6 separate regions of the Homo sapiens genome follow, and all the other regions are reported to be linked to region 5. Evidence: microRNA targets listed by miRTarBase, many of them from high-throughput screens and not tested one by one. Region 5 holds a microRNA gene; each other region holds the end of a gene's coding sequence.
Evidence for each region. Region 5 holds the annotated microRNA hsa-miR-499a-5p (UUAAGACUUGCAGUGAUGUUU, at 2,449-2,469, shown strand). A microRNA usually pairs through its seed, bases 2 to 8, with sites in the 3' UTR of a target mRNA and lowers its output. Matches are read on the target gene's strand: a 7mer-m8 pairs with bases 2 to 8, a 7mer-A1 pairs with bases 2 to 7 and ends in A, and an 8mer does both.

Region 1: miRTarBase lists IQGAP2 as a target of hsa-miR-499a-5p. The part of its 3' UTR that is shown has no 7-base or 8-base seed match.
Region 2: miRTarBase lists ASAP3 as a target of hsa-miR-499a-5p. Seed matches in the 3' UTR shown: 7mer-A1 at 1,883-1,889.
Region 3: the mRNA of FOXO4 is a reported target of hsa-miR-499a-5p. Seed matches in the 3' UTR shown: 7mer-m8 at 3,339-3,345.
Region 4: the mRNA of SLC25A12 is a reported target of hsa-miR-499a-5p. Seed matches in the 3' UTR shown: 7mer-m8 at 1,487-1,493.
Region 6: miRTarBase lists WASHC2C as a target of hsa-miR-499a-5p. Seed matches in the 3' UTR shown: 7mer-A1 at 4,579-4,585 and 7mer-m8 at 4,223-4,229.

The regions. Positions count from the first base shown.
Region 1 is chr5:76,706,374-76,711,596 of GRCh38, forward strand. IQGAP2 (IQ motif containing GTPase activating protein 2) reads left to right here. Exons shown (of 36, transcript NM_006633.5): 36 at 827-1,759. The coding sequence ends at 940. Among named protein-coding and RNA genes, the nearest start is that of NCRUPAR, 3.4 kb to the right of the region's middle.
Region 2 is chr1:23,425,972-23,431,194 of GRCh38, reverse strand. It overlaps ASAP3 (ArfGAP with SH3 domain, ankyrin repeat and PH domain 3), which reads left to right. Exons shown (of 25, transcript NM_017707.4): 24 at 70-160; 25 at 1,265-2,632. The coding sequence ends at 1,339. LOC124903875 (a long non-coding RNA gene) reads right to left here. Exons shown (of 3, transcript XR_007065535.1): 2 at 4,935-5,017; 3 at 2,212-3,483. Among named protein-coding and RNA genes, the nearest start is that of TCEA3, 3.8 kb to the right of the region's middle.
Region 3 is chrX:71,100,589-71,105,811 of GRCh38, reverse strand. FOXO4 (forkhead box O4) reads right to left here. Exons shown (of 3, transcript NM_005938.4): 2 at 4,072-5,128; 3 at 2,280-3,735. The coding sequence ends at 3,728. CXorf65 (chromosome X open reading frame 65) reads left to right here. Exons shown (of 6, transcript NM_001025265.3): 4 at 975-1,043; 5 at 1,408-1,514; 6 at 1,700-1,923. The coding sequence ends at 1,825. Among named protein-coding and RNA genes, the nearest start is that of CXorf65, 3.5 kb to the left of the region's middle. RefSeq lists enhancers at 4,444-4,493, 4,780-5,223.
Region 4 is chr2:171,781,338-171,786,560 of GRCh38, reverse strand. It overlaps SLC25A12 (solute carrier family 25 member 12), which reads left to right. Exons shown (of 18, transcript NM_003705.5): 18 at 1,086-3,156. The coding sequence ends at 1,287. Among named protein-coding and RNA genes, the nearest start is that of DYNC1I2, 96 kb to the right of the region's middle.
Region 5 is chr20:34,987,960-34,993,182 of GRCh38, forward strand. It overlaps MIR499A (microRNA 499a), which reads left to right and starts at 2,417; the gene lies at 2,417-2,538. MYH7B (myosin heavy chain 7B) reads left to right here. Exons shown (of 45, transcript NM_020884.7): 19 at 133-303; 20 at 1,781-1,960; 21 at 2,055-2,187; 22 at 2,275-2,351; 23 at 2,779-2,866; 24 at 3,045-3,162; 25 at 5,143-5,223. MIR499B (microRNA 499b) reads right to left here and starts at 2,513; the gene lies at 2,441-2,513.
Region 6 is chr10:45,792,011-45,797,057 of GRCh38, reverse strand. It overlaps WASHC2C (WASH complex subunit 2C), which reads right to left. Exons shown (of 31, transcript NM_001330074.2): 31 at 4,094-4,797. The coding sequence ends at 4,658. Among named protein-coding and RNA genes, the nearest start is that of AGAP4, 53 kb to the left of the region's middle.

The DNA.
Region 1 (5,223 bases), not on the chromosome of region 5:
GTCTTTCTCTGTCGCTGAGGCTGGAGTACAGCAGTGCAATCTCGGCTCGCTGCAATCTCTGCCTACTCTGTTCAAGTGATTTTCCTGCCTCAGCCTCCTGAGTAGCTGGGATTACAAGTGTGCACCACCACGCCCAGCTAATTTTTGTATTTTTAGTAGAGATGGGGTTTCGCCATGTTGGCCAGGCTGGTCTCACTCTCCTGACCTCAAGTGATCCACCTGCCTCAGCCTCTCAAACTGCTGGTATTACAGGAATGAGCCACCACACCCAGCCAGAAAACACTGCTTTCTAAAGAATATGCATCTAGCCAGAACTTTGTGTTTTAACATTTTCGATTAAAAATTGAAATTATATATCTGACATTAACTTAATGATCATCATTTACTTTCATACAGCCCTTATCAATTCCAAAAAGCTATTTTCTTTCATCTAAGTCACAATCACTTGGGAATTTATTAAAATGCAAATTGATGGGCCCCACCAGAGAGCTACATAACAAGAAATTCCTGTGGGAGGAGCCCAGGCAGCCTTTATTTTAACTAGCCTATGTTTTTAACCAGATGATTCTGATGTACACTTAAGTTTTAGAACCCCCATCTATGGCCTGGTGCCATGGCATGCGCCTGTAGTCCTGGCTACTCGGGAGGCTGAGGTGGGAAGATAGCTTAAGCCAGGAGTTTGAGACCAACCTGGGCAACATAGTTAGACCCCACCCAGGTGATTAGGTCAATTGAATCTGACTTTTGTCAACAAATTCTTCTAATATGTTTTTTAAATGCACAAAATGTCAAAGTTGAGATTTAATGATGCTTTTTACAATTTCAGGATTTACTTCAGATGCAATATGAAGGAGTAGCTGTAATGAAAATGTTTGATAAGGTTAAAGTGAATGTAAACCTTCTCATATACCTGCTGAACAAGAAGTTCTATGGAAAGTGAAGTGCCTACAGAAATTTCTTGGATTCTGTATCATCTGGATTAGGAAATGAATTTGTTTAATATTTTTGTTTTTAAACATGATTGAAATCACTGCTTATAAATGTGTGATTTTTTTAAAACGACCAAAACTGTTCTGAAGAATGTACCCAGGTGCCTTTTTGCTAATTTGATACTATAATAGAATGAGACATAAAATGAATTAATGGAAACATATCCACACTGTACTGTGATATAGGTACTCTGATTTAAAACTTTGGACATCCTGTGATCTGTTTTAAAGTTGGGGGGTGGGAAATTTAGCTGACTAGGGACAAACATGTAAACCTATTTTCCTATGAAAAAAATTTTAAATGTCCCACTTGAATAACGTAATTCTTCATAGTTTTTTTAATCTATGGATAAATGGAAACCTAATTATTTGTAATGAATTATTTAGACAGTTCTAAGCCCTGTCTTCTGGGAGTTATCAATTTTAAAGAGAACTTTTGTGCAATTCAAATGAAGTTTTTATAAGTAATTGAAAATGACAACACAATAACACTTTCTGTATAAAAGTATATATTTTATGTGATTTATTCCTACTAAATGAAAGTGCACTACTGCCTCATGTAAAGACTCTTGCACGCAGAGCCTTTAAGTGACTAAGGAACAACATAGATAGTGAGCATAGTCCCCACCTCCACCCCTCACAATTTATTTGAATACTTCAATTGTGCCTCTCAATTTTTTGTAATGCTAAAAAATCAGTATCTAGATGGTTTTTAAATGTATTCTCTGGAAATTGTTTTATGTAAAATAAATGTTACTTAATTCCATTAATTTGGCTTTTAAGTTGTCTTAATAAATCAAAGTCATTTAGTGGGTAGGGGAAGATTCTTGGTCGGGTTTGTTAGGAGAGAATACATTTCTTGCTGTACTGGTTAAAGTAGAGAGCAAGCTGCTGTAAGGAAAAGATACAAAACCCTGGTGTCTAAAACAAGGGGTAGAAGTTTGTTTTTCTCAAATTCAGCTCAACGGTGAGCAGATCCACAAGGTAAAGAGTTTCCAGGTGGGTCAGTTGGCTCTGTCCTTGTACTGATTCCCCCCAGCCAGATGAGGAAGAGGATGACGAAGAAGTCCAGGGCAAGCCTTTTCAGTTATACGCATCACTTTAACTTCCACTTACATTGTATTGGCCAAAACTGAGTCATGTGGACACAGCTAGCTAAAGATAGTCCCTAACTAGGCAGCCATGTAGCCAGTGAATACAGAGAGGTAGAGAGGGAATTGGGTCTGTTATTAAAAGGAAGAAAAGGAGTGTGATTCCTGCTGACAGTTTAGGAGTCTTCACCACAAAAGGATTCCAGACTCTCAGGCTGGAACCTCCCTGCCACTTTGTTCATGCCTGCAACAGGCTTTATTTTTTCACAAATTGCAAAATATTGAGAAAGTAGGTTAGTTTATGTACATGTGGCACAAATAAACTTGAAGGGTAAGACCAACAGAATTTGGAAAATTCAAATTAAAAAAAGTAAAATCTGCTACTTTAGTGATGGTTTCAGGCTATGTATATTTTTTTGACAAAGAGATGAATAGCTTAAAACAATGCTCACTATCTCAACAGTTTGCGGGTATGTATGTTTTGTAATGCATTAGCCTTAATGCAGGCTTTGGTAGAAGGAATTAAATATACAGTTAAGTTTCACGTTGAAAATAAACCTCCCTCTTGCCCTACTGCTAGCATTGGAAAGGGGAACAGGAGCCAGGGGCAATGAGGGGTGGGCAGGGTAAGCTTCCTTCTTGCTCCGGGCAAGGCTTTTAGTGGAAATGTATAGAAGGAGCCAAAATTAGGGAGCAATGTTTTGGAGGCAAAAGCCAGCCTTTCCCAGCATCTCTGAAAGGAGCTTATCTTAACTTATTGCAACACTGAATGATATGCTTGAATGTTATTTGTACGAATAAAGATATTTGCATCATGTCAATACCTTCAAGGAACGCTGTGAATGATTTCTCTGTTGGCCCACAAGATGAGGTTATTGTTGAAGACATCACCAATTGCTATTTGTGTGAGATCTTTAAGCGGTATGAATGGGTGACCTGAGAAGAAGGCTCATGATGAAGGAACAAAACCAAGGGCCATCGGGGCCTGGGTGTAGCAGACTTCAGTTTACAGAGATTTGTTGGAGCCAAGTCCTGTGCTACTCTTTAAGAGGACTAAACTGTCCCTCAAGCCAGAGGACAATTCTTGATAACCCTGAGCCTGAGCCACTAAGGACTCCAACTTCCTCCCAGAGCCCATAGATTTTTCTTACTCAATGGAAAAGGTTTTTTGTTGTTTGGGTTTTTTGTTTGCTTGCTTTTTTGCTTTTAAACACTGAGCAATTGGAACTATAACTTATTTTTGCAAAACTGACTCCTGTATTTTGATTATTTTGATTATTTTGATCTTAAAAGCAAAAAGTACTTATGCAACACTATAGGTGCTCTCAAAGGATATGCTTTAGTGGTCTTCAGGAGAAGGAAAATATGTGTATGCTTTATTCTGAAAGTTAGTGGTGAAGAAAGACCAGCTTGGTGTGACCGTTGTCTGATATGAATGATCTCAACTATAATTATACGTTAGTGTTTGTGTGTGGTTGGGCACAAATTAGAAATGCTATTCATGATGTGATTTTTATGACTTTGTCATTAAGTAGGGATTTGTGGTATTCCTCAAACATTCCAAGAGGCAAACCACAAAACTCTGAATGGTGAAAGTTGTCTTTATTTTGAAAAATTATAGTGAGCACTGGATGTTCTTATTGCTGGTTAGCTTTTTGAAAAATCTATTGCCAATGTTACTAAAACCAAACTTGGTAACAGGTTACAACAGAGGCCCCCTAAGCTCCAGAGGACAGAATCTGTGTTTCAGTCACTCTAAATCCGGAGCCTGGCAATGCTTTGTAAATAAATGGCAGGTGCAGACAGGGGTTCTAGCAATGGAATGAAAAGCAGACAGACCCTACCACCCCCACTGCCCCTCAGGAGTCCACTATTACTTCAGGTTGGCACTTGGATGAATGGGGCTTTTACTTATTATCTCAGCCTAAAAATGAATAGCCTCTCAACTCAATCTCCAAATAAAATATCTTATACAGATTTACTATGTTGCCTCACTGTTTTCCTTAGAGTATAAAATCTTTTAGCTAAAATATATTGAAAGGGAAATCAATGAAGAGGGAGAACTAGGAGATAATGTGTTCACCTTACTTAACTGGAATGAAAGTTTTTGGTTTTTGTCGTCTTTTAATAGATACTGAATTTGACCTTTGTTTAGCACCCTAAGTCATAGGGATAGCCTACCATTCTATCGATGGTAGAAATATAGTTGTTGATCCATTATGAGAGATAAACTTCCAAATCTAAGCTGACAGTACGGGTTTATAACAGCGAAAGACAGAAACAGGTCATCTGTTGGTTGGCTTGTAACCTGATTACAAACCTTCTGTTTGCTTTAAAAAAAATGTGGCAATATATACACAGAATCTGGTAGTGCCTCAACCTACTTTGAATACTTTCATATGAGCTCTGGTATCCCCATCATTTAGCTTCCAAAAGGAAATTACTATGCAAGTTCTTAGAATATACTATTGTCTTTGGAACACTTCAAATAGAAGAGTGGTAACCAGAATACCTGAAGCAGGTAGATCATCTGATGGCTTACATGAAACTGCTTTCGTATCATCTAGTTATTAAAATGTTTACCACGTTGATGCCACATTTGTTTGAAAACACTACTAAATACCATAAACATTATGGGAGGATGGCTAATGACTCATACTATTTGGTACCAGGCAAGTTAAAACAGAGAAAATGAAAACCGGAAACTAATATCAAGTGGTTCCAATATGAATGATGCTGCAAAGTCAAGATTTCATTTCCAAGAAATATTTTTAGCAACTCTGGTTAGGCAGATTTTCAACATGTTTATCATCTCTGGTTAAGTAGATTTTCTACTCTCAGAAACCTACAGATGTTTGCTTTAAAACTGACAAAGGGGTTTTGGTAGGAGTGGCGTGGAACAAATGAAGTAGTGGGTTATCTTCTTCAAAAAGCTCTTAAGAGGCCGGGTACGGTGGCTCACGCCTGTAATCCCAGCACTTTGGGAGGCCAAGGCGGGCAGATCACCTGAGGTCGGGTTTTAGGAACAGGGCGCCAAATCTGGCCATAAACTGGCCCAAAAACTGGCCATAAACAAAATCTCTGCAGCACTGTGACATGTTCGTGATGGCCATGACGCTCACGCTGGAAGGCTGTGGGTTTAC
Region 2 (5,223 bases), not on the chromosome of region 5:
AGCCCTTTCTCCCCACTCTGAGGGGCTCTCTGGACATGAGGGTCATGTTGGCCTTTCCCTGCCTTCCAGCTCCGAGAGCACTCGCTCCTATCGGCGGGGGGCGCGGAGCCCTGAAGATGGTCCCTCAGCCAGGCAGCCTCTGCCCAGAAGGAACGTGCCGGTAGGAACTCTGGGACCATGGTTTGAGGGGCGGTGGCAGGGTGCCTGGGAGGCAGAGTTAGTCAAGAGTAGGCGTATTGGGGTGGGAGACCTCCCCATGGTTGGGGTACAGATGGGCCCAGGCAGCCACAGTTTGGACAGTCCCTGTCCTGGTGCCCAGGTGGGCACGGTTTGGCCAGTCCCTGTCCTGGTGCCCAGGTGGCCACGGTTTGGCCAGTCCCTGTCCTGGTGCCCAGGTGGCTGCAGTTTGGCCAGTCCCTGTCCTGGTGCTCCTCTTTCCATGCTCCAGCCCAGGGCTGGGTGAAGCTGAGGAGAGCCCAGGCCTTGAGGGATGGCAGTGATCATGAGGCCCAAGCTCTGGCTTCTCCCCAGGGGAGGATGAGGAAAGTTGTGTTAGCCAGGCCAGTCGCTCAGAGAAGGCATCACTTCCCTGCAGAAGAGGCAGGATTAGGTGGCCGTGTACCAGCCCTTGTTTGCCTAACTCTCCCCTTGTTCATGAGTCTCCTGGAATCCACAGGGACTTTCAGATCCCAGGCATAGAGGGATGTGACAGGGACAGGGCAAGAGCTGTCATCCTTAATCCAGCTTCTCCCTGCTGAATCACCAAGTCTCCAACAATGGCATATATTAGTTGAACCTAGGAGTGGGCACAGATCAGAGCCAGTTGTGTTGGGAAAGAAGCCTCTTCTGTCCCTTGTTCCTCTGGGAATTCCTCAGAATGGCATTGGTTGTGTTGGGAGTCAGGATGGCAGGGGCAAAAGCTGGTTCTGTCTGGGGAATCGTCATCTTTAGTCCACCAGAGTTAGTCAGCAGACACAAATCTATGTCCATATTCTGGTTCCACTATTGCCCTGAAAACCAAGTATCCATCAGATGGCATTTAATTGATGCCTGTGATTGTGGTGTGTATGATAGCAAGAGCTTGGGCTTTAGAGTAAGGAGACTTTGGATAAGTGGCTTCACTTCCTCAAGCCTCAGTTTCTTTGTCTGTAAAATGAGAATAATTTAATTTATCTACAATAGGACAGATGTGAAACTGAGTGAGATGAACACCTGGTATGTTACAGGTGCTTTGAAAATGTCAGTTTCATCCTTCTTTCTGCAGGTTGGCATCACTGAAGGAGATGGCTCAAGGACTGGGAGTCTCCCAGCAAGTTCTGTGCAACTTTTGCAAGACTAGCTCCTTGCTGGCCCCCACATGCCCCATGCTAGGCCCCAATGTTCAGAGCTGGGACTTGAGCTCACAAAACTGGGGAGCTGAGACATTTGTTCTCTTGGATCTCACTCTCTCTGTCCCTTGTGCCTCTGTAGCTGGCCTTCTTCCTGCCACAGGCCATGCCTCTACCAAGGACACATGGCCTTTCCCTGTTAGGACTGATGGCGGTTCTTTCCTATCTCATTACCCGCTAGGGGCCTGGGAGCCCTGTGGCTGGATCTGAGTGCTCCTGAGCTGGCTTCAGCTGCAGAACTCTCAGTCCCTCATCAGATCGAGACTCTATTTCCCCCGTCAGTCTGGGGGCTTCACAAGGGCAGGAGAGCCCTCCATCACTGACTTCCAGATCAGGGACCCTGCCAAGTAGGGACTGTCTTCTCAGCCAGCCATTTATTAGTCTAATATTCCTTCACTAAATTCCAACTCTATGTCTGGACCTGTGTTAGGCACTTCAGATACCACACGAGTAAGACAAGGGCCCTGCAGGGGTGGTCCTTTGGTGGAAAGCTGGTCTTAAGGGTTGGGCTTGGGAATAGGCAGGGTCAGATTCCAGGGCATGGCTCTGGACTCAGCTGGTTTATACCTATATGACCATTACAATTGTCTACAGATCACATCCATTCTGGCTGGTCAACATGCATGCTGTACTGGCTGTTAAATAAAAATATTCTGAATGTCACTCCTTTTGAGGGACAGCACAGCCTTCCCTAGGCATTCTCCTATATTCCCCAGCCAAATTGTAGAGTCAGATGCACCCACATTTGCCTGTGTCCTTGATTTAGCAGGAAGGAAAGGAATAGTCAGGGTTGATGGATGCCCACTTCTCTTCTCTTTCTCTTGGTCAACTCAGGAGCCTTTTAGTCTGAGGGAATGGAGAGGCAAAGAAAGAAGGGAGAGTAATAGAATTGGGAGGGCAGAGACTTAAGGGTTCTGCTTCCCAGCCCTAGAAATTCTATCATTGCTCAGCCCCAATGAGAAAGCAGATACACCTAAGCCATCATCAACCACTAACATCTCAACTTGCCAGTTGCTGGGTGCTGGGCCCTGGCAGGAATGGGCCAAGCCAAGCAGGGGAGACTAGAGAGCACCAATGGCCAACACAGCTGCCTGGCTGGGGAGGCTGTGCTGTTTCCCCTGGAGACCTGACTGGTCTGTGGTTCCCACAGGAACAGGGTTGTCTTTTGAGCCCCCAGTGTCTGGTTTCATTCATCTCAGACTTGTTATTTCACTCATCTCTAATAAAGGATTGGGGGGTCAGTTTCCAGTGGTTTCATTTATGTGATCTAAAGAGCAACAGGGAGGGGAAAGGAATCTTGGGGCTTGAAATTCTTTCTCTGGACCTGGCAAGGGAGATGGCCTGATGTGGAATAGTGGTTTGCAACCACAGTGTTTTGCCCCGGGGAACTTCTGATAAAGCAGAAAACAGTTTTGACTGTTCCCAACTGGAGGATGCTAGTGGCATTTAGTGGACAAAGGTCAGGGATGCTACTAAACATCCTACGGTGCATAGGTCAACCCTCCCTAGCAATGCATTATCCAGTCCAAAATGTTAATAGTGCCAAGGTTGAGAAACCCTGGAAAGAGCACTGGACTAGGAGTCTGGAGACCTGAAATTCTAGCTCTCCCATGGTCCTCTGCCACTGTCTCTGTTGACTGCCCCTGAGACAAGGATTTGGGAGCAAGTAGCTTATCTGTGAAATGATCCCAGGAAGCATAATGAGGGAATAGAGAAATGAAACAGAAAGTCAAAGATAAAGAGCTGTGCGTGTTGGTGAGAACCTATACTCCAGCTACTCGGGTGGGAGAATTGCTTGAGCCCAGGAGTTCAAGGCTGCAGTGAGCCATGATGGCGCCACTGCACTCCAGCCTGAACAACAGAGCGAGACTCTGTCTCTAACTCTTGTTGGGGACCTGTGAGAAGGAGTATTGACTAGAACATGCCTTCAGGTTGTCCCATCGAGAGTGAAGAAATGATGTTTTCCACCAACTCTGGTTTCTTGCTGGTTGGGGGTGTCCTTTCTGAGGGCATCAATTTCCTACCACCCCAAAGCTCCAAATAGAGAAATGTGGGGAGCTGTCCAAGGTGTGTCCAGGAATTATCTTCCAGTGACCTGTAGGGTGGACAGGTAGGCAGAGGGGATATGATGGTATCAACAGGGTCCAACCCTGAGAGAATCATCACCCTCTTTAGGCCTCGGTCTTCCCATCTATACAATAAAGAGGTTGGACTCCATGTTTTCTTAGGGGCCTTCATACCCTGACATTCTAGGAGTCTTAACTTTTTTTTGATGTCGCGCATCTCAGGGTGGTGACTGGGTGGAAGTTTGAGAAAAATCTCTCTCTCTCTCTTTTTTTTTTTTTTTTGATGGCTCTGTCTCCCATACTGGAGTACAGTGGCACAATCAGAGCTCACTGTAACCTTGAACTCCTGGGCTCAGGCAAGCCTCCTGCCTCAGCCTTCCGAGTAGCTGGGACTATAGGCCCACGCCACCATGCCCAGCTTTTTAAAATATTTTGTAGAGACGAGGTCTCTCTCTGTTGCCCAGGCTAGTCTTGAACTCCTGGCTTCAAGCAATCCTCCTGCTTTGGCCTCCCAAAGTGCTAGGATTACAGGCATGAGCCACTGCTCCTGGCCTTTTTTTTAATAAGGCAATCCTAAGTAGCCTCAGGCTGCTGAGGTTGAGTCTCTTCAACCCAGAAGGGCTTGGCTGGGATTGGCCAAAAGGCCTCCCAGAGAATCCCAAACCATTAGAGTCTAACTTCCCAAATGTGACCGGCAGGCACTGCATGCTCAGGTCCCACCCACTGCCTCTCCCCACACTCCTCACCTCTGTGCTGCAGCCACGCCAATTTTTCAGTTCCTCCAACACTGTCAGGCAGGCCAGGCACCCTCCCATCCCTAAGCTTTGCACATTTGGAACTCCAAGAGGGGAGGACTGTTTTGTTCCTCTCTGGATGTCCAGAACAAGAACTACCTGGCACATATTAGGTGCTCCATAAATATATGTTGAATGCCTCTTCCTTTCTTCCGTGAACACTCTTCCTCCTCCCCTCAACGGCCACTGTGTACTTCAGCCCAAAGTTTAAACTTCGTTTCTTCAGAGAAGTTGACACCCTAAATAGTGCAGGTCCCCTCAAATGTGTCCTTAAGCTATCCTCCACTGCTTCCTGCCCTTCACCCCAGCTATGATAAATGCATTAATTGACTATGTCTGTTTTTGTTTAAGGTTTCTCTTGCCCATAGACTGAGTCTCAAGCTTTCTGGGACTGGGTCTGTCTTGTTCATTGCTTGGACACTCAATACGTATTTGTTGAATGGATGAAAAAAACCCACTCTGTCCTACCTTGATCCCCGTCACATAGCAATTAGAAGATAGGTGTCCACACCAAGCTGCCTCTGCGACCCAAGCTGAAATGCGGTTCTCTCAGGAAAATCAGGAGATTTCACTCGACACCCCAACCCCAGCTCCCACACACTGTGGACCACTTTTCATGCCTTCCCTCCAGGTTCCTGAGCCCCACCCCCATCACAGGAAGATCATTTTCTGTCCATTAAACTCACTTATTTAGCAAGAGAACTGGGTCTGCAGGAGATACTTGAAGATCATTGGAGATCATTCCACAGGAAGGCAGATCCCTGCATGGCTGGGGAAGATAGGCACAATTGTGTTTCCACCCCTCCACTAAGATGACTTCCAAACCCAACCCCACTGAGGGGATACTGGCCTGACCTGGCAGCCTTGCACCTGGATCAATATTTCTCAAAATTTGGTGCACTTAAGAATGAATCTCGGCGGGGTGCGGTGGCTCACGCCTGTAATCCCAGCACTTTGGGAGGCCGAGGCAGGCAG
Region 3 (5,223 bases), not on the chromosome of region 5:
AGAGCCTGCCTCCAAAACCAAAACCAAAACCAAAAACAACCAAAACCAAATTAAAACAAAAAACAGAACACCCTCAAACAACAGAACACCCTCAACCAGATCCAAATTGACCATCTCTAGTCAGCCTAAGGAAGGGTACTGCCTCTATAATAATAGGTTACCTCACACATACTCTCCCCTAGGTCCATACCTAAGGGGAAGAAATATCCACCAGCTCAAGGTAGGTTTTTTTTTTTTTTTTTTTGGGACAGAGTTTCGCTCTTGTTGTCCAGTTGTCCAGGCTGGAGTGCAATGGCGCGATCTCAGCTCACTGCAACCTCTGCCTCCCAGGTTCAAGCGATTCTCCTGTCTTAGCCTCCTGAGTAGCTGGGACTACAGGCACCCGCCACCAGGCCCAACTAATTTTTTAGTGCAGATGGGGTTTCACCATGTTGGCCAAGCTGGTCTTGAACTCCTGACCTCAGGTGATCCACCCACCTCAGCCTCCCAAAGTGCTGGGATTACAGGCGTGAGCCACTGTGCCCGGCAAGGTAGTCTTTATTTTTATTTATTTATTTATTTTATTTTTTGTGATGGAGTCTTGCTCTGTCACCCAGGCTGAAACAGTGGCATGATCTTGGCTCACTGCAACCTCTGCCTCCTGGGTTCAAGTGATTCTCCTGCCTCAGCCTCCGGAGTAGCTGGGATTACAGGCGCCCACCACCATGCCCAGCTAATTTTTTTTGTTTGTTTGTATTTTTGGTAGAGATGGGGTTTCACCAAATTGGCCAGGCTAGTCTCGAATTGGCCAGGCTAGTCTGGAACTCCTGACCTCAAGTGATCCGCCCACCTTGGCCTCCCAAAATGCTGGGATTACAGGCGTGAGCCACCGCATCTGGCGGGTAGTCTTTAGTGTTAGGTCCTGGAATCTTGGACTTCTGAAGGGTGGAGACTGGATGACAGGGGCTGGAGATAGCACATGGCTATGTTCACAGGAACCAGGCTGGAGAATGCTTACAGAGCTTTTGTGCCTCTCCTCAAGAATCCGGAGCCTTGGCTGCTTGGTAAGAAGTGAGATGGGGGAGGGAAGAACATGAAGGGTACAGTATATAGCTGTGTGATGGAGAATGTAGGGTGGGACTAGCGTGATATGGTAGGTCAGATGATAGGAGCCTAGGAAAAGGCGGGCAGGGTCCAGGTCCACTTTAGGAGGGACGTTTAGCTCACACCAGGTGGAATGTGCATGCGTTACTCCCCACTTCCCCCATTTCTTGGCCATCTTCTCCGTATATCTCCCTGTCACCATTCCATCATTTCCATCTTAGGCCAAGTGGGGCTCCAGCTGATGGTTTGAACAATGAATGGGAGCATCAGGAAGGGTAAGGTCTCTAGTTCTCAGAGGTGCAGGTGCCTTTTCCTTGTTCTTAGTTGCACTGCGCATACAATGTGATGCCCTGGAGAGGAGACGAATTCAGATGCTTAAAATGAAAGAAGCCAAGAAGGTCGTTATAATTGAACCCCCTGCGAGTGTCCCGGTAAGACTTGCCAAATGTGATCTGCCCCAGCACCCCCCTCTCCCTACCAGCCGACTGAATGTTCCTACACCCCAGCCCTCTGAGATGAATTTCCTGCCTCCAATTTCTTTTTTCCTTCCTTTGGCCCTGGGTTGTAGAAACCTTCCCTGCAGGGGCCTCTTTGTTTACTTACTTTCTTTTTCTAGTCCAAGCAATCAGGACGATCAGACAAAAAGAAGTCCACTCGCAAGTCTCCGACCTTTAGGAACAGACCAGACTTCAGGAAGAATAAAGGTCGCCAACTCAATAAAACCACCAAGCAAAAGAAGTAATACTAGGTGTGAAATTACTGGAATTTAACGTGAGATTTCTTTTTCTAGAAAGACTCCTTCTCCCAATATCTGCACTAAGGCTTGAGTACATACGCCCCAGGCACCTAGGAGGCTCTGAGGGTGGATGGGAGCGGCAGGAGAGGGCTGGGGCAAGCACATGGGTGGGGGTGAGGAAGGCTGTGAAGTCTAGTACAATGAGCCTTTGAGGAACGGAGTAGGGGGTGGGGTCTTCTCAAACCAGACTACCTCCCCTTGGGAGGCCTATCTCACAGCCCGCCTACTCCTGCAGGGGTTAGGTGTCCCTCCACCCCCACACTCCACCACCTCCCCGGGGTGAAATTCCCCCACCCTCCTCCATGTCTCTGCCTTTGGGCAGTTTCTTCCTCCCGCCCTTTGCCTTTTCCCCTCCCTCCCCCTTATCCAAGGGGAGAAGCAAGGCAGCAGAAACCAGAGCTGGTTATAGGCATTTATTGAATTTATTCATTTATTGATTTGACACACTTCCCCACTCCAATCTAGCACATGATACAATCTGGGTAGGCCAGGCGCTGACACAGGAAATGATGGGAACCCACAGCAGGGGTGGGGGAGGGGACGATGCAAAGGGCACTGGGGGAAGGGCTGCTTTGGGGGCTGGGGTGGAGAAGGAGCCCCAGATGGCCTCCCTGGCAGGTGCTAGTAAACCTGATCCACATCCCCCCCCATCCCTGCTCATTTCCCAGACCCTCAGCCAAGCTCCCCAGCTCCCCCTTCCCTGTTCCTCCCCTCCCCGCTGCCTGCTGCCACACACACTTCCACATAACCCCTGCAGTCAGGGAAGGGGAAGAAGGGCAGGGACAGCTGTCAGGGGCCTTGAACAGGGAGGTCTCTGTACCTAACTTTACCATCCTAAATCCTTCCCTCCTTCTCTTCTCTCCCCTCCCAGTCCCTTCCCTGGCCCCAAGCTAATTCCAGGCCTTCAATGTACTCTCCCACCATAGCACTAACCCATGCTGGGTCATAGAAGAGTGTGGCTGCACCCTAACACCACACACTCCCAGGCACAAGTTGAAGGAATGAGGGGACCTGGGTTAGCTTTTTTGTTAGGGAAACTCTAACCTATTTCTGCATAGACCTTTCTCTATACCTGGTCCGTAGGGGAGCTCTTCCCTGTGTTTACTATTACTCCCCACCTCTCCCCACTTCCCTGTGTCTCCTAATATTTATTGTCTGTAGTGTTTGTATCATGTCACTATCACAAAGCCTTCAGAAAGAAAAAAAAGCATTCTGCCCACCACTAGCACCCTGCCATGGTTAAAAAATCTCTATATTTGTGTTTATATTTCTTTAAAAGTTTATAAAAAGCCTTTCTGTTATCTGCAGCCTTCTAAGGGTGATTTGGCCTGGCGAGCCACTCCAGTGCTCAGACCTTGGCCCTTCCAGATCCCCTAAACAGCCCACCCACCGCACATCACTGGCCTAAGGGGCCACTGCATAGAAATCCCAGGCTCCAGCTAGCCTGGCTCAGCTCAGATAAGACTCTCTACAAAAAAATCCTGCTCCCAAAGGCAGGGGTAAGGCCACTGGTGACTTCACATTTCCAACAGCATTGCTCATCTTGCTACAAAGCCTAAGTGGGTAGGAATGGGGAAAGCCGATGATGGCTCCTGAGAGGGGGCCTTACCCCCTAATTGGCACAGTGAGAAAAACCCTCTCCCCTTTCCCCTCCCATCTCCCTCCCCATATCGTCCCCAGATGGGGCAGCTTTATCTTTATAATTTCTTCAACACCTGTGTGTGACCAGACCCCACCCTAGCTCTAAAGCAGGGTCCCAAATTCCTGGGGAGGGCTCAAGGGTAAAGAGTAGATATGAACACGCCTGGCTCCACATCTGAAGCAGGGGACAAAGCTTCCAGGCATGACTCAGGGATCTGTGGGAAGAAGAAACAGAGAACAAGGTAAGAGGCTTACCTGGGGCTTGCCAACATTCTATCATCCAGATTCCCACCAAAGAAGATGGTGGCACCTAACCCGCTTCCATACACATACCTTTTCTGTGCTACCTTGCAGGGCTGGGCACAGCTAAGGGGCCTGGAGGTCCCATCCGGAAACTATGCTACTGTAATATGACATCTTCCCTCCAGTTCCCCAGGAGCTCTGGCTACCACTTGTCCTAAATCTCCCCTTCGCCCAGATCATGGGACTAGCTGGGCACCTAGGAGTGGTAATAGGCTATGAGGTGCTGTGGTGATTAGGGGGTACTGTACCTGGCTCAAAGTTGAAGTCCAGTCCCTCGCCCTCATCCATGAGGTCACTGATGATGTTATCCATGTCACACTCCAGGTTCTCCATATACATATCAAGATCTAGATCCTGAGGCATTCTGTCTTGGCTTGCAGCTTCAGTAGGGGGTGTGAGCACAGGAGTCCCCAGAGCCTTGGGGATGGGGGCACTTGCCATGACTGGAGGTGGTGCTATCATAGAAAGGGTGGGAACCAGACTGCTGGGGCCTGGAGCCTCTAGGGGCTTGGGACACAGGCCGACGCCCGTGGCCAGCTTACTGGAGGAAGGAAGCCCCCCCAGCAACAGAAGAGTCGGAGCCTGGGACAGAATGGGATCTACCTGGGTCATGAGGACGTCAGCAGGGGGTGGTGGCGTATCAGAGGTGAGCAGGGCCTCCAGAGCCTGGGAGCTGGAGAAGCACCCTTCTCCTGCTGACAGGGGCCCCTCTGCTGGGCTGAAAAGGGAGCTGCTGTAGGTGTGTAAGGGGCCGGTAACCCCAGGATGCTGCAAAGAGAAGCCAGAGAGACCACTCCGAGATAGCAGGGAATGGGAAGAGGTGAGATTGAGCCCATCTAACAGCTCTAGACCTTCATTGAGGGTGGGAGGGACACCCCCTGCATAACTGCTGACTGAAGCTGGTATTTCCTCCGCCAGCACCTCAGACTCTGGCCTCAAGGGGGACAGCCGGGTGCTGACACTGCTGGCATTTGAACTGCTTCGTGGACGGAAGGTGGTCCACATATCGGCTTCTTCACGGTTTCGAGAGCAAGGGCTGCCTGACCACTTGGCAAAGTGGCCGACAGGGCTCGTTGGAGTGGCACCTTCGGGTGGAGCTGGCAGCACAGATGGTTTCTTCTTGGGGGCTTTACTGCGGCCCCGGAGCAGCTTGCTGCTGCTATCCATGGAGGCGGCCCGGCGGCGGGGGGCTTTGCCGCTCTTGCCTCCCTCAGGGTTCAGCATCCACCAAGAGCTTTTGCCGGTGGCCTCGTTGTGAACCTTGATGAACTTGCTGTGCAGGGACAGGTTGTGGCGGATCGAGTTCTGGAGGGGCAGAGATGGCAGGAAAGGGGCGTGAGGTACTGTAGGGGAGGTCAGTGGCCAGCGGTCAAGTCTAAGAGGATGCTGGACCCTGATGA
Region 4 (5,223 bases), not on the chromosome of region 5:
CATATAGGGAATCAGCTGCTGAACCAAGTGGAGGGACCTATGCAAAAAAAGTGAGAACAGCAGTCTTACAGTTGCATTGTAGAAATGTGAGGCTTCAGGCTTTTCCATGCTTCTTTCATCTTCTGTAAAAGAACTAAAGCTATTTCTCTCTCTCTCTTTTTTTTTTTTTTTTTTTTTTAGACGGAGTCTTGCTCTGTCGCCCAGGCTGGAGTGCAGTGGTACGATCTCGGCTCACTGCAACCTCCACCTCCCAGGTTCAAGTGATTCTCCTGCCTCAGCCTCCTGAGAAGCTGGGACTAAGGGCGCCCACCACCGCGCCTGGCTAATTTTTTTTTTTTTTAATATTTTTAGTAGAGACGGGGTCTCACCGTGTTAGCCAGGATAGCCTTGATCTCCTGACCTCATGATCCGCCTGCCTCGGCCTCCCAAAGTTCTGGGATTACAGGCGTGAGCCACCATGCCCGGCCTATCTCTCTTTAAATAATTTAATTGATAATCTTTATGAGTCTACTACATAAAAAGTTAACTTCTAAAGTTATGTCAAAAGAAAAATATATACTTTAAAAATTACTTTCATATGTGCTAAGTGCAGAAAATTTGGAAAACCATAAAGCATAAAAGAAAAAAACCAGCCTGGGTGTGGTGGCTCACACCTCCCAGTGCTCTGGGAGGCCAAGGCAGAAGGATTCCTTAGACCAGAAGTTCGAAACCAGCTTTGGCAACATAGCAAGACCCCATCTTTACAAGAAGAAAAAAGAAAAAAATCATCCATAATCTTACTACCCAGAGAGTCTTCATATTTGAGTGTCTTTTCTTCTGACTTTTTTCCTATGGATTTGTTTATATATGTATGCAAGCATTGGAAATAAGGCCATTTCTCTTGTAAATCAAATATGTAGATAAGTTGCTGTCAAAGCAGCTATAAATCATGACTGTGGTTTCTAGTCATGCAGCACAGATGCCATGGAAATGGTTGAGAGAAACATTCTTCTTTGTGGCACATGGGTCAGACCGAAAATGTCCAGCTGTAAGCTGCGCTCATCCACCTTGAGCATGCTAACCATTGGCTTTTTTTCTGTCAACAGCAAACCCGCTGGTTCAGAACCAACACCTAAGTCACGCATTGCAGACCTTCCTCCTGCCAACCCTGATCACATCGGTGGATACAGACTCGCCACAGCCACGTTTGCAGGCATCGAAAACAAATTTGGCCTTTATCTCCCGAAATTTAAGTCTCCTAGTGTTGCTGTGGTTCAGCCAAAGGCAGCAGTGGCAGCCACTCAGTGATGAGACAACTGTTGAGTGTGGCAAAATGGCGCCTTGAAGAAAGAGGCCTAGGAGAGCAGCCCTGTAATGTATCCAGTCAGCTGCATGGTACTGACTGAGCTGAGGAGTCAAACTCTTCTTTCTGTATGACATATACATATACTTGTTTATAAAATAATCATTTGCCCAGGGAAAAAACCACAACGCTGTTTCAAGCTTTAGTCTTATGTGTTGAAATGTTTTTGTAAGCCTTGGCATGAATTAGTGTTCTAGACTCTGCTTTGCACAGCTTGCACTTACAGTGATTGTACATATTGTACATCTTTGTACAGAGACATCTTGGCACCTCATCCCAACAAATCACATTTGTAGAAATGTAATGCGGTTCTGAGTGGCTTGAAATGTACAGAATGTTTTGAAAGTGTTTTATTAAGAATCACACAAAAATAAATGTATTAAAATTAAATTCATTCTCTTATTGGTGACTTATGGAAATAAAGCATCAATATTGGATGTATTTAATTCCTAGTTTGTTTTCCATTCTGGAATAAAAAGGTATTTGCTGATAAAAGGCATAACGAGACATAGTGCTGCTACCACTGAATAAGTGATACTTTGGAAAGATGCATGCCAGTGGATGCCAGAGGACCAGGCTAATGACTTGTGTGTGCTGATGTGTTTCCATTTGTATTTAATGTGTGTAGACCCTCCTCTGTTCATCAATCAAAAAGCATTTCCTAGGCAGCTCCTCGCCTGTCAGTGTGCATATGGAAACAGGGACATCTCCATCATTACTGGCTTAGTTTTGCTTTCCTTTGACACAGTAAGGCAAAGGCCAAGCTTTCAAAAGAGTAAAGGATACTTTCACAATTTCCCTTCATATGGATATGATTCCAGTCAAAAATAAAATGCACACCAAAATGTATACATGTAGTTGGATTTTTCTTTGTAAATATACTGATAATACTTTTTGTTCTGATTGACTACTGATTGCAAATAACTCATGATCGGGTTCGCCCTTTCTTCCACCTTTATAGAAAACAGAAAAATTAGTTTTAGAAAGGGCTAGCGCAGAGTGAAGGGAGGGAAGAAGAAAGAGAAGAAAAGCTCTATATGGTGATTTAGTGGGGTCTAGGTTCTTACTTTGGAATCCAAATGCAAACTGTTCTAAAAGTCACTCATCAAGGGCGTGATTACTAATTTGGATCTAAACATAGATCTTGACAGCCACATCTACACTTTGATATGGATGTGATTTGATGTGCAGTATCAGAATTTATTTACCTTACCAAAGTGCTCTGGGAAGACATTATTGCTACTGCCAGTAAGCTGGGATATGAGAATGTATGCAAATATTTTCAAGAGGCGAGCCTGGAGACAGACCAAGTTACTTAGTATCCTGCACAGTGCTCCTCGATTGATGGCTGACAGCCCTGTGACTGCAACTGTAGGCTCCCTGGAGGCCCTCCAGGAACAAAAGAATTAGCTTTGAAAGCAAGTTATTTTCAAATGTATTAGATTGGTCTCATGGGAGTGGAACAAATAATAATACAGTTGTTTTGCTACTACCACTTGTTAGAAATATATAAGTAGTCCATGGATATGTGATTACAAAAGAATCCTATGTATGTATCTAGAGTGAGATGGGAAAGTGTCCCGCTTACCCTCCTTCTACCTCCACCACTTCCTGGCCCAGAGGTAATCACTGCTAACAGGTTACAGCATGAATATGTAGTCTGTTTTTCATAACTCTATAGAAATATATGTACATATTTATATTTTAGAAACAGGATTATGTTATGTGTGTGTTATTCTGTGTCTTGCTTTTGTTCACTTAATGTGTTTTGGATATCTTTCCATGTCAGTTTATAAAGTTTTATTTTTAATGGCTGCATAGTATTTCATTGTATGGGTTATAATACTTTTCATAAATCTTCCCTTATTGATATTTATTCATTTTTTTCACTACTGCAAACAATGCTGTAGTGAATGGCAGACATCTTTGTACACATATCTTTAGTGCATGTGAATTTCATTAGGATAGATATTTGGAATTGCAATTGAAAACTTTTAAGACAAGCTTTATGTTTTTATACATATTGCCACATTGTTCTTCAAAAAGAGTTATTAATTTACTTTCCTTTGACAGCATATGAGAATGCCTATTTCTTTGCAACCTCAGCAAAGAGGGATATTATCAGTCTTTTACATTTTCAGCAAATCATGATAGCTGATCATGGTTATTTTATTTTTCTAATTACTAGTGAGATTGAATGTCTTTTCATATTTACTGGTCATTTGTATATTTTCTTATTGTGGAATATGGACAAAGTACATGAAACATATGTATGCATGTCCACAACAGATATGTACACACATACATATATATTTTTTAACATATCATAATGTGCATACCATATGACCACCGGGTCAAGAAATAGAACATCTCCAGTACCTCAAAAGCTCCATATATGTCCCTCCCTAACACAACCCTCTGTCCACTTTAACATCATCCCTACTCTTTGCTTTGCTTTTCTTCATAGTTTTACCACCCATGTATATGTCTCTAAAGACCATATTTAGTTTCTATTTTTGGAATTTATATGAATCAAATTATACTGTACACTTTTGAGACTGGTTTCTTTTGCTAAGCATTATGAGATTCATCCTTATCATTGTATGTAGCCATAGTGTGTTTATTCCATTGTATGAATGTATTACATTACATATACTTTTTTCATTTTACTCTTGATGGACAATTTGGATTTTTTCCACTTTGGGGATATTTCAAACAGTGCTTCTATGGATATTTTGAACATGTCTTCTGGAGTTTGCATCTTTAAAAGGACATATACATAAGAGTGGAACCTAGATCATGCCAACTGTTTCCCGAAGATTCTCATACTGATTTACATTCTTCCCAGGGTGTATTGGCTTTTCCCCAGCCCCCCAGTCTGGTAGATGTATAATGGTATCATATTGTAGTTTAAATGACCATTTTCCTTATATGGAAAAAAAATATGAAAGGTGTTCATGAGGCTGATCACATTTCATATATTTTTTGACCATTTGGATTTCATCTTTGGTGAATGAAGTGTGTTAAAGTTCTCCCATTTTTCTCATGAATTTGCAGGTGGTTCTTTATATATTCTGGCTACTACTCCTTTATGAGTTGTGTTGCAGAATCTTTTCCCACTTTGTGGTTTGTCTTTTCACAATGTTTATAAATATAGTAACATTTTAATTTTAATATCTTCAAATAATAGTTTTCCTTTATGGTTAGCTCGGTTTTTTTTATGGTTATGTTAAAAATATAGTTAATATTCTCTTGTTACATGCTTTGTAGTTTTGCCTCTCACATTTTGGTTTCATCCCACTTGGAACAATCTTCAACATATAGTATGAGGTAATTTTTTTGCTGCTATAGGGCTAGTCTGTTGTGCCAGCACTGTTTATTGAAAAAAAACAAAAACAAAAAACCTTCCTTTTCCTATTGCTTTGAAGTGCCTTTTCTGTTGTATATTGTCAATATATGCAAAGATCTTTTATGGGCTCTTTATTATATTGGTTTTTTTCCTGTGCTAATGTACACTCTCTTCATTACTTCATGATCTTCAAAAAAATTTTTGATATATAATATCAAAGTCCTTTCACATCCTTGTTATTCATCAACAGCTTGTGGCTCTTCTTGGTTCTCTGCTCTTCTTTATATATTTTAGAAATAGCTTATCACGTTTCACTAAAAAAAGCCGAACACATTGAAAATTTGATTGGAGTTGCGATGAATCTATAAGCTATTTTGGGAGAATTTATATCATAGTGGGCCTTTCAATCCATGAACATGATATATTGCTAAGTCCTTTTAATGTCTTAATAAAATTTTATTAATCACCAAGAAGGTCTTGTAAATCTTTTGTTACATATATTCCTAGGTACATCATATATTTGGATGCCATT
Region 5 (5,223 bases):
GGACATGGGCCTGTGGGGGGGCAGAAGCCCTGGCCTTCTGCCTGGAAGTTGGGGGTGAACTCATGCCCCTCCCCGGGCCTCCCTTTCCCCATCTGCGAGAGGTCTGCTGAGCCAGGCCCCTCCCTCTTGTAGTTCAACAGCTTCGAACAGCTGTGCATCAACTTCACCAATGAGAAATTGCAGCAGTTCTTCAACCAGCACATGTTTGTGCTGGAGCAGGAGGAGTACAAGCGGGAGGGCATCGACTGGGTCTTCATCGACTTCGGCCTTGACCTGCAGCCTTGCATCGACCTCATCGAGAAGGTGGGTGCCGCGGCAAGGTCACTTTGAGGAAGGGAGGGTGTGTGTGGTGAGCAAGCAGGGATGGATGACCATGGCTTGCATGGAAGCCTGCAAGTGTGCATGGAAGCGTGTGACTGTGCGTTGCAGTAAGCATGCATGTGAGTGTAGTTGTGACAGCGTTTATGTGCTTGTGTGTGAAAGGGCACGTGTGTGAGTGGGTGTGTTGGAGTTGACCATGAGTGAGCCTTGGTGAGTGTGTGAGCAGTGTGAATGCATGCATCCCAGTACTGTGGACAACAGCTCCTCCTGGGTGCTCAGAATTCTGCAGCTCACAAGGCCCTATTTGCAGCCACAATTTCACTGGATCCCTAGAACTGCCCTGGGTGCAGGGCAGGGTGTGTTTCCTTGTTTTTGTGATTGTGGAACATTATGTATATTTACCCATTGTACAAAGAATGGAAGAAAGAAAATTTGAAAAATTGGCAGGGGAAAAAATGTTTCTCCCCATTCCTATCACAGCCAGTCACATGACACTTAGGTTCATTTCCTCGAAATCCTTTATCCCTTTTTTTTTTTTTTTTTTTTTGAGATGGAGTCTCACTCTGTCGCCCAGGCTGGAGTACAATGGCACCATCTCAGCTCACTGCAACCTTCGCCTCCAGGGTTCAAGCAATTCTTATGCCTCAACCTCCCAAGTAGCTGGGATTACAGGCATGCGCCACCACACCTAGCTAATTTTTGTATTTTTAATAGAGACATGGCTTCACCATTTTGGCCAGGCTGGTCTCGAACTCCTGACCTCAAGTGATCTACCCACCTTGGCCTCCTAAAGTGCTGGGATTACAGGCGTGGGCCACTGCGCCTGGCCTATCCATTTTCTTTTATAGACACAGATTTCATTTCATATCCTACTTTTTCTCTGAAAATGTATTTTGAATGCTGCTCATGGCAAGAGTAGTTCATGCAGTGGATGAGTTTCATACGATGCATTTCTGCAGTCCCCTACAGCTGGGCGTTTAGGTGATTGACAGCTTTTTAAATATTATGTCAGCACTGAAGACATTCATCTTCCCACTCTGCAGGTTAGAAGACTGAGGCTTAGTGATGTCGGAGGGCCCCACAGCTAGTGAGTGAGGAAGCCAAAATGTGAACTTGATGGCTTTTTTTGACTTACCCCATGTTTGTGTGTGACAGCCATGGCTGTGGCGGGGGTGAGAGTGGGTACAGAGATGCCAGCTTGGGTTTGCCATTGTTAGAAGTGAAGATGACACCTCAGTGCTGCAGATTTTGCAGGAGGGGACTGGAGCCAAGCCACAAACTTTTCTCTGTTAGGAGATGGGTTCTTGGAGTGGGTGTGGTGTCTGACCATCCGGGGAGATGGCTGAAGCTGGGGATCTGGGAAGGCTCCCAGAAGGGAGGTGGCCTGGGGAACCAGGGGTTCAGTCCTTCCAGGATGGACTGGCTTGATGGTGGCTTTTCAAGCTCGTTCTGTTCCCAGCCACTGGGCATCCTGTCCATCCTGGAGGAGGAATGCATGTTCCCCAAGGCCTCAGACGCCAGCTTCCGGGCCAAGCTCTACGACAACCACGCGGGGAAGTCACCCAATTTCCAGCAGCCTCGGCCTGACAAGAAGCGCAAGTACCAGGCCCACTTCGAGGTGGTCCACTACGCAGGCGTGGTAGGTGCTTGCTGGAACCCCAGCCCTCGGCCAGGCTCCTCCCGCCCTGCTCCAGGTCTCCCACCCGGGCTCAGCACCTGACTTGTCTCTCCAGGTGCCTTACAGCATTGTGGGCTGGCTGGAGAAAAACAAGGATCCCCTGAATGAGACCGTGGTCCCCATCTTCCAGAAGTCACAGAATAGGCTCCTGGCGACTCTCTATGAGAATTATGCGGGCTCCTGCTCCAGTGAGTATGGAGGGACAAGATCTCCACTCTGACAGGGGCCCACAGAGCGACATTCCCTGGAGTGACCAGGCCCCTTGTCTCTATTAGCTGAGCCCCCCAAGTCTGGGGTGAAAGAGAAGCGTAAGAAGGCAGCATCGTTCCAGACGGTGTCCCAGCTGCACAAGGTAAGGCCCCATCTGGGAGACAGACCCTCCCTCTTGGCAGCCTCCAGCCCCGTCCTTCACCCCCTGCCCTGTCCCCTGTGCCTTGGGCGGGCGGCTGTTAAGACTTGCAGTGATGTTTAACTCCTCTCCACGTGAACATCACAGCAAGTCTGTGCTGCTTCCCGTCCCTACGCTGCCTGGGCAGGGTTTGTGGGGAAGGGGTGGGAGCCCTGGGGCTCTGGGAGGGACGGGGATTTGGCAGGGAAGTGAAGACTTTGGTGGTGGTGATGGGAGACAGCGAAGGGTCTCCCATCACCAGAATGAGAGTGAAAGAGCAAAAGTGCAGGGCACTTAGGGCCCTGCTCCCGTCTCGGTCCTGACCACTGCGGCATCCAATTCTGGTTCTCTGCCCCCTTTGTGCCTTTCCCTCACTCTTCCCCACTGCCAGGAGAACCTCAACAAGCTGATGACCAACCTGCGGGCCACACAGCCCCACTTCGTCCGCTGCATTGTCCCCAACGAGAACAAAACCCCAGGTAGTCACCCAGGGCTGGCCTGGCTGGGGCCGGGAGGCATCATGGGAAGGTGACAGGGCAGAGGCCGGGAGGCTGAGTACATCTTCCCCCTCACCTCGCAGGGTCTCCACTGCTGCTTTTTCTCTGGGGCCTGCGGGTGTGCCTGTTGACCTCTGACCTTTTCCCCTCTCACGTCCAGGGGTCATGGATGCCTTCTTGGTGCTACACCAGCTGCGCTGCAATGGGGTCCTGGAGGGGATCCGGATCTGCCGCCAAGGGTTCCCCAACAGGTTGCTCTACACCGACTTCCGGCAGCGGTGGGTGACCCCTTCCCCCTGCCTGCTGCTCCAGGTGGAGGCCTGAGGGGCTGGGCAGGACACACATATCAGAGCCCAACAGACGGTCCCCTGTCTGGAGGGGGAAGCAGGGACTGTGAGGGGCCTGGCCAGGTATCCCAGCAAGACATGGGGGTGGCTCAGACCTGGCCGGGGACTTGGGGAGAAGTGAATAGGCTTGGGGCAAATAGTGGAGGTGGAGCCTACAGGCCTCGCTGATAAGCTGGACATGGAATTCTGGATGCAGAAAAGACGAATGATTTCTAGTTTTGGGAGTGAGCAACCTGGGAGCTACCAGTGGTAGATTTACTGAGCTACAAAAACAGGGTTTTTTGATTTGGAGGAGAGGTGAAGGGATACTGGTTTGAGCTCTGTTTTGCGTGTATCAGGTTTGAAATGCCTCCAGCAGACATCCTAGAAAAGTCATGGGGGAGATTGGGATTATCAATCTGGAGCTCAGGGCAGCGGGCAGAAAGGATGCAGATTTGGGAGTTGAACGAGAATCATGTGGACGAGGCTTCATGAGACACCTGGCACATAGCAAGCACCTGGGCAGTGCTGCCAGCTCCTCCCCGTTCCCTCAATGGGCAACAAGCATCCATCGTTCCTTCTCCCTCCAGAAGTCATGGTGTCATCCACACTATCCTTTGTAAACAGAGGTTCACACAGATACCATACACGCACACACACGCATGGTGCTGTGACCTTGTTTTTTCTAACAGTCTGGCCTGGAGATCGTTCCTTATCCCCAGGCGTATGCCTGCCATCGTCATCCGTTTTTCTTGGCTGTGAAACATCTCACAGTCTGGTGGACTGCATGCTTTGTTTAATGAGTCCCCCTCATGAGGGGCCTTCACAGCGTGGCTGTAGCCCACCTGACCCACACAGCCCTGTGCATGTGTCCACTTAGAAGTGGGCAGGCTGGGAGCCCTGGCTCTTTTGCATTAGAATTTCCCCCCAAATGGGCTGGGCGCGGTGGCTAACGCCTGTAATCCCAGCACTTTGGGAGGCCGAGGCAGGCGGATCACGAGGTCAGGAGATCGAGACCATCCTGGCTAACACGGTGAAACCCCATCTCTACTAAAAATATAAAAAAATTAGCCGGGCGTGGTGGCGGGAGCCTGTAGTCCCAGCTACTCGGGAGGCTGAGGCAGGAGAATGGCCTGAACCCGGGAGGCAGAGCTTGCAGTGAGCAGAGATCGTGCCACTGCACTCCAGCCTGGGCGACAGAGCGAGACTCCGTCTCAAAAAAAAAAAAAAAAAAGAATTTTCCCCCAAATGTTTCTTCAGTGATAGGGTACAGCATGTCACCTTCTACTAATATTTTTTGCCTTTAAAAAAATTTTAAAAATAGTGCATGCCTTCTGTAAAAAGCCTCTTTAAAAACTTAATGAATGCATTTAAAATCCCCCCAAGGTTGTGTTTTTTTTTTTTTTTTTGAGACGGAGTCTTGCTCTGTCACCCAGGCTGGAGTGCAGTGGCAGGATCTTGGCTCACTGCAACCTCTGCCTTCTGAGGTTCAAGCGATTCTGCAATTCTTCTGCCTCAGCCTCCCGAGTAGCTGGGATTACAGGCGCCCGCCACCATGCCCCACTAATTTTTGTGTTTTTAGTAGAGATAGGGTTTCACCATGTTGCCCACGCTGGTCTTGAACTCCTGGGCTCAAGCAATCCACCCGCCTTGGCTTCCCAAAGTGTTGTGATTATGGGCGTGAGCCACCGCACCCAGCCAACCCCCCAGGGATTTTAAGTGGAGTGTCCCTAGTGTCCCAGTGTGGTGACGCATCCCTGGCCCCCTTGTTTGGCATGTGCCCTGCTGGAACCTCTGCACCAGCCTCGGAGAGGCCCAGGAACGAGTCCCCTGCTACCCACACGAGCCTCCTCAGTCCCTGACTTCCCCATTCTCAGTGGCCTGTGCCCCATACCCAGCCCTCTCCTGACCAGCTCTGCCCTCCTTTCCCAGGTACCGTATCCTGAACCCCAGTGCCATCCCGGATGACACCTTCATGGACAGCAGGAAGGCCACAGAGAAACTGCTGGGCTC
Region 6 (5,047 bases), not on the chromosome of region 5:
AACAATTTCATTTTTTACTAAACTGAAGGGAGCACATCTGATCTCTACCACCTAGCACAGTGTTTTGCACATATTGGTACTCATTAAAGCTTTGTTCAAGGAAAGAACAGATATTTTTGTCTTTCAATTGATCCTCAGAATAAACCTGTGCTATAGGTAAGGTATTATCCAAGTTTTAGACATTAATAACTATTTGGTTATCCTGTGTTAGCTGTTTGTGTTGCTATAAAGGAATACCTGACACTGGGCAATTTATAAACAAAAGAGGTTTATTTTGGCTCATGGTTCTGTAGACTGTACAAGGGGTATAATGCTGTTATCTGCTTCCAGTGAGGGCCTCAGGAAGTTTACAATCATGGTAGAGGAGAGGAGCCAGCATGTTACATGGTGAGAGAACAAGAGAGAGAGAGAGGAAGGACGTGTGAGGTTGTTTTTTGTTTGTTTGTTTGTTTTGAGACAGAGTCTTCCTCTTGTCGCCCAGGCTGGAATGCAGTGGCACGATCTCAGCTCACTGCAACCTCTGCCTCCTGGGTTCAAGCAATTCTCTTGCCTCAGCCTCCCGAGTAGCTGGGACTACAGATACGTGCCACCACACCTGGCTAATTTTTGTATTTTTAGTAGAGATGGGGTTTCTAGATGTTGGCCAGGATGGTCTCCATCTCCTGACCTCGTGATCCACCAGCCTCGGCCTCCCGCAGTGCTGAGATTACAGGTGTGAGCCACGGTGCCCGGCCCCCAGGTTCTTTTAAACCAGATCTCATGTGAACTCAGAGTGAGAACTCATTCATTACCACAAGGACAGCACCAAGACATTCATGAGGATCCACCCCCATGATCCAAACACCTCCCACTAGGCCCACCTCCAACACTGGGGGTCACATTTCAACATGAGATTTGGAGGGGACAAAACATCCAAGCCATATCATGCTCCAAAAGTTTGTTTAGAGGGATGTTGGCTTCTCACAGGAATCCCATTCTGATTCACTCCAAATGAAGTCCACCAACGTTTATCCAACTCATAACATACATGCACATACAGGAATCTGCTATAATATGAGTTTTTAATTACACTAATAGGAAAGATCATTAATTCGGGAATCTGCATTGCATTGTACAGACTTCTAGTGATCCTAAAGGGAGGGCATTACAGAAAGGAAAGTTGTTTCTTGTAGTGCAGCTCATTTGAGTGTCGTTGCACCATATTTCAAAATGATGGGTATTAAGAGTAATACAAGGTACCAGGCTAATAATACTGCTGGTGATAGTGGTAAAGGGTCATTGCTCTTAAATAAAAGCTAAATTAAAAAGCTGCATTGCTTATATATGACTTTGTATGGAGCTCTCTAACCTTAACCCCCTTTCTTTCACTCATTCAAACAACTGCTTTTATAATTTTGGATAACATGAATTCTTAAAAACATACTTATGCTATATCAAATAAGACTGTCCTATAGAGTTGCCAGCGTGTGTATCCCCGAAGCCAACAGTACTCGTACCTACACAGGTGCAGCTCTAGCAACAGAAGTCAGGTGTCAGGACTGCAAAATGCACATGACAGAAATAAAGACATGAGTGACTATAACTGCCTAAGGAATATGGATTGTTTCCTTCACCACAGTGTTCTTCCATAGTGAGACCCTGAAAATAATAGGCTGGGGGAGGGTAGAAGATAACAAACAGATTTGGAAGTCCTTCACCTATAATGAGAATGGATAATTCAACTATATGCCAGAAGAAAAAGCATAACCCCGTTCAGCATTAATTGTGCTGGAACTTCCACCGTAAGTCTGGGTCCAGTCAATGGGGTAATTTCCAATATCCCAAAAGAACCAAGGTTGATAACCAAAAGCTAAAATGTTTCCCTCTAGAAGATAGTTATGCTTCTCCTCAGGAGTAGAAATCACTGTAGCAGAGGACAAAATGAGGCCATGAAATCTGGTTAAGCCAGACTGGATGCCTAGAGGGTAGCTGAGGAGCAAATGGAAGCTGCAGCAGGAGAACAAAGACCCAGCCAGTAATAAAAGCTGGGTCCATGAACGGCTTCTTGAAATGGTGTGTGGTCATGCTTAGCTGAGCATACTGTGGGACTCATGATCTTGGAAAATGAGGTGGCAATGAAGACTTAAAGATGGGATGGAAAATGATGCGAGAACAGCTTAAAAAAAAAAAAAGGAAGAAAACAGAAGGGGAAGAGGAAACAAAGAAAACAGAAAGAAGCTGGCCATTGTGGCTCATGCCTGTAATTCCAGCAATTCAGGAGGCCAAGGTGGGAGAATCACTTGAGGTAAGAAGGTTGAGACCAGCCTGGGCAACAGACCCTTGTCTCTACAAAAATTTTTTTTTAAAAATTAGCTGGGCATGATGGCACACACCTGTAGTCCCAGCCATTCAGGAGGCTAAGGTGGGAGGATCACTGGAGCCCTGGAGTTCAAAGGTGCAGCAAGCTATGATTATGCCACTGCACCCCAGCCTAGGCAACACAACCAGACCCTGTCTTTAAAAAAAAAAAAAAAAATGGGAGCAGGTAGAGAAAAAAGTATTTCCATAATTTTTTACAATTAAAAAATATATCTAGCTCTTAAGAGTAATGACACCAAAAAGATTTCTAAATAAATTCCCAAAGCATTTATCTCATCCCTTCTGAAAAAGTTCTAAAAACACAACTCCAAAGATGAAATGGAAGGTAAACAAGGCAATAGCACTGAATACGTAATTTCAGTAACTCAGAATTTGCTCCATCCTCTGCTCTAAAAAAGCTTTGCTACAGAAGAGCAGTTACCTTTAAAACTTTTTCCCCAACATAAAGATATCCAGAATGTGAAGCTACCATTAGAAATGTTGACATAGGCTGGGCGCAGTGGCTCACGCCTGTAATCCCAGCACCTTGGGAGGCCAAGGCGGGCAGATCACAAGATCAGGAGATCAAGACCATCCTGGCTAACATGGTGAAAACCTGTCTCTACTAAAAATACAAAAAATTAGCCGGGCGTGCTGGTGGGCGCCTGTAGTCCCAGCTACTCGGGAGGCTGAGGCAGGAGAATGGCATGAACCCAGGAGGCGGTGGTTGCAGTGAGCCGGGATCACGCCACCGCACTCCAGCCTGGGTGACAGAGCGAGACTCCGTCTCAAAAAAAAAAAAAAAATGTTGACATAGATCTTCATTTACTGATATGTGAAAACATCCCTAAAGTTCTAAATACGAGCTACAGAATCACATCAACCATCTAATATGTCTGTAACCTAAACGCTAGTCGGCAGTTGATCCGCAAGCGGGATTAGGAAATATTTCAGAGCCAGCATCTCCTCGCACCATCCAGGTACCTATACACTTGAGGCCACCAAGTCACCTGCGCAGCCCTTGCTCCTCCAAGACCAACCAGGGCTCCCCAGACCCACAGGCCTGAATCTGGAGGACAGCAGTCTGCCTGACAACAGCGACTCGGAGATCTCAACCTAAGGACAGAAGGAAGATGCATAAAATGAATAGGGGAAAGGAGTGGCCAACTAGCAAGTGCCCTTATCTGTTATCACGTCACTCTCACAGCAGACTTGGGCAAATGGTTGACCTGTGGAAGCCGTACAAAATGTTTGACTCTGGGTATGAGTAATTCCCCTTCCGATCTTACAGTGCCCAAGGAAGAAGTAAGTAGCTCCACGATCGCTGAGACCAACCTGGGCGGCCTACAAGACTGTGCTGTGGTGACAGGCTGCATAGTCAGCAGCAAGACGACAGAGCACCAAAAAACACAGATTAGAATGGGGTCAGCCATCCAGGTGGCTAGTGGCTACTGCCTTTGTCGATACAGATAAAGAACATTTTCATTCCTGTGGAGTTCTATGGGGCAGTGCTGCTCTAGAGGCTGACATTTCCATCTTCAGCACTTCCCCCGGCTATTACCTAGGTTCATTCTGCTGCTTCCACAAGACAAGGATGGAAAAGGATGCCTTAGAGCAATGGTCAGCAAACTGTATATAAAGGGGCAGATAGAAAACATCTGAGGCTCTGTGAGCCATCCAGTCTCTGTCATAATCACTCAACTCTTACATTGGAGGTAGGGTGAGAGCAGCAATAGACAGTAAGTAAACAAATGAATGTGATTGTGTTCCAATAAAATTTTATTAACAAAATATGACAGTGGGGGGGCCACAGTTTGCCAAACTTTGCCTTGGAGGACATGCAGAGGCACCCTCAGAATTCAGTGAAAACCTGCTCCCATATTGCTAAGACTCATGAAGTATAATCTCTCATCTTCTTTCTCTTTCCCCTGCCCAAGCCCTAAGTTAGGGTTCCCATCCATATAACAAAGACTTCTGGTCAGGTGGCATTTGCTATCTCTGAGATTCCCTGCCCATGAAAGCCACAAAGAGATTTCTTCTTTTACACACCCTGAAGCATATTATGGCCCCAGCAAGGCTAACTAAATCAAACTGTGGTTTAAAAACAAAACAAACCAACCACTGTGAAATATTTATTTTTGTTTTGTAGTATTAAGCATGATTAAACCAGTGCAGAAAAATACTAAGTACATTGGGTAAAAGATGAGCTAGCTGTTCTAGTATTTGCTTTTTGTAATCCAGTTAAGACCATGAGCATATACAATATCATCACTAACTCAACAATGTAGCTGCAGGGTAACATGTGGATACCCTGTGTGCTCTACTGGCCTCCAAAGGCATTCAGGGGATCATCAAAGATGTTGGACACCTTGTGTTCAAATCTTGGTTCAGGTGCGGCCTGTGCAGATCGGCTTTTTGGTTTGGTTGTCTTAGCCTGGATACCAGTGGAGAAGATGTCATCTTTAGAAAGAAAAAAGAAAAACAGTTGCTGAAGAGGGGTGGAGAAAGGTACTTTTAAGACACATGCAAGCAAACCACCAAAGACCCAGCTCTCGTAACAGCATGGAGTACCCTAAAACACTAACCTAGAACTCAAGCCTCTTAGATTCTGGTTCTGTGTTTGTTACTCATTAAATTTTATGATCACACACAGGTTTCTCTTGGAGCACAATTTCTTCAGCTACAAAAGTGTATGTATGTGCGTGTGCAG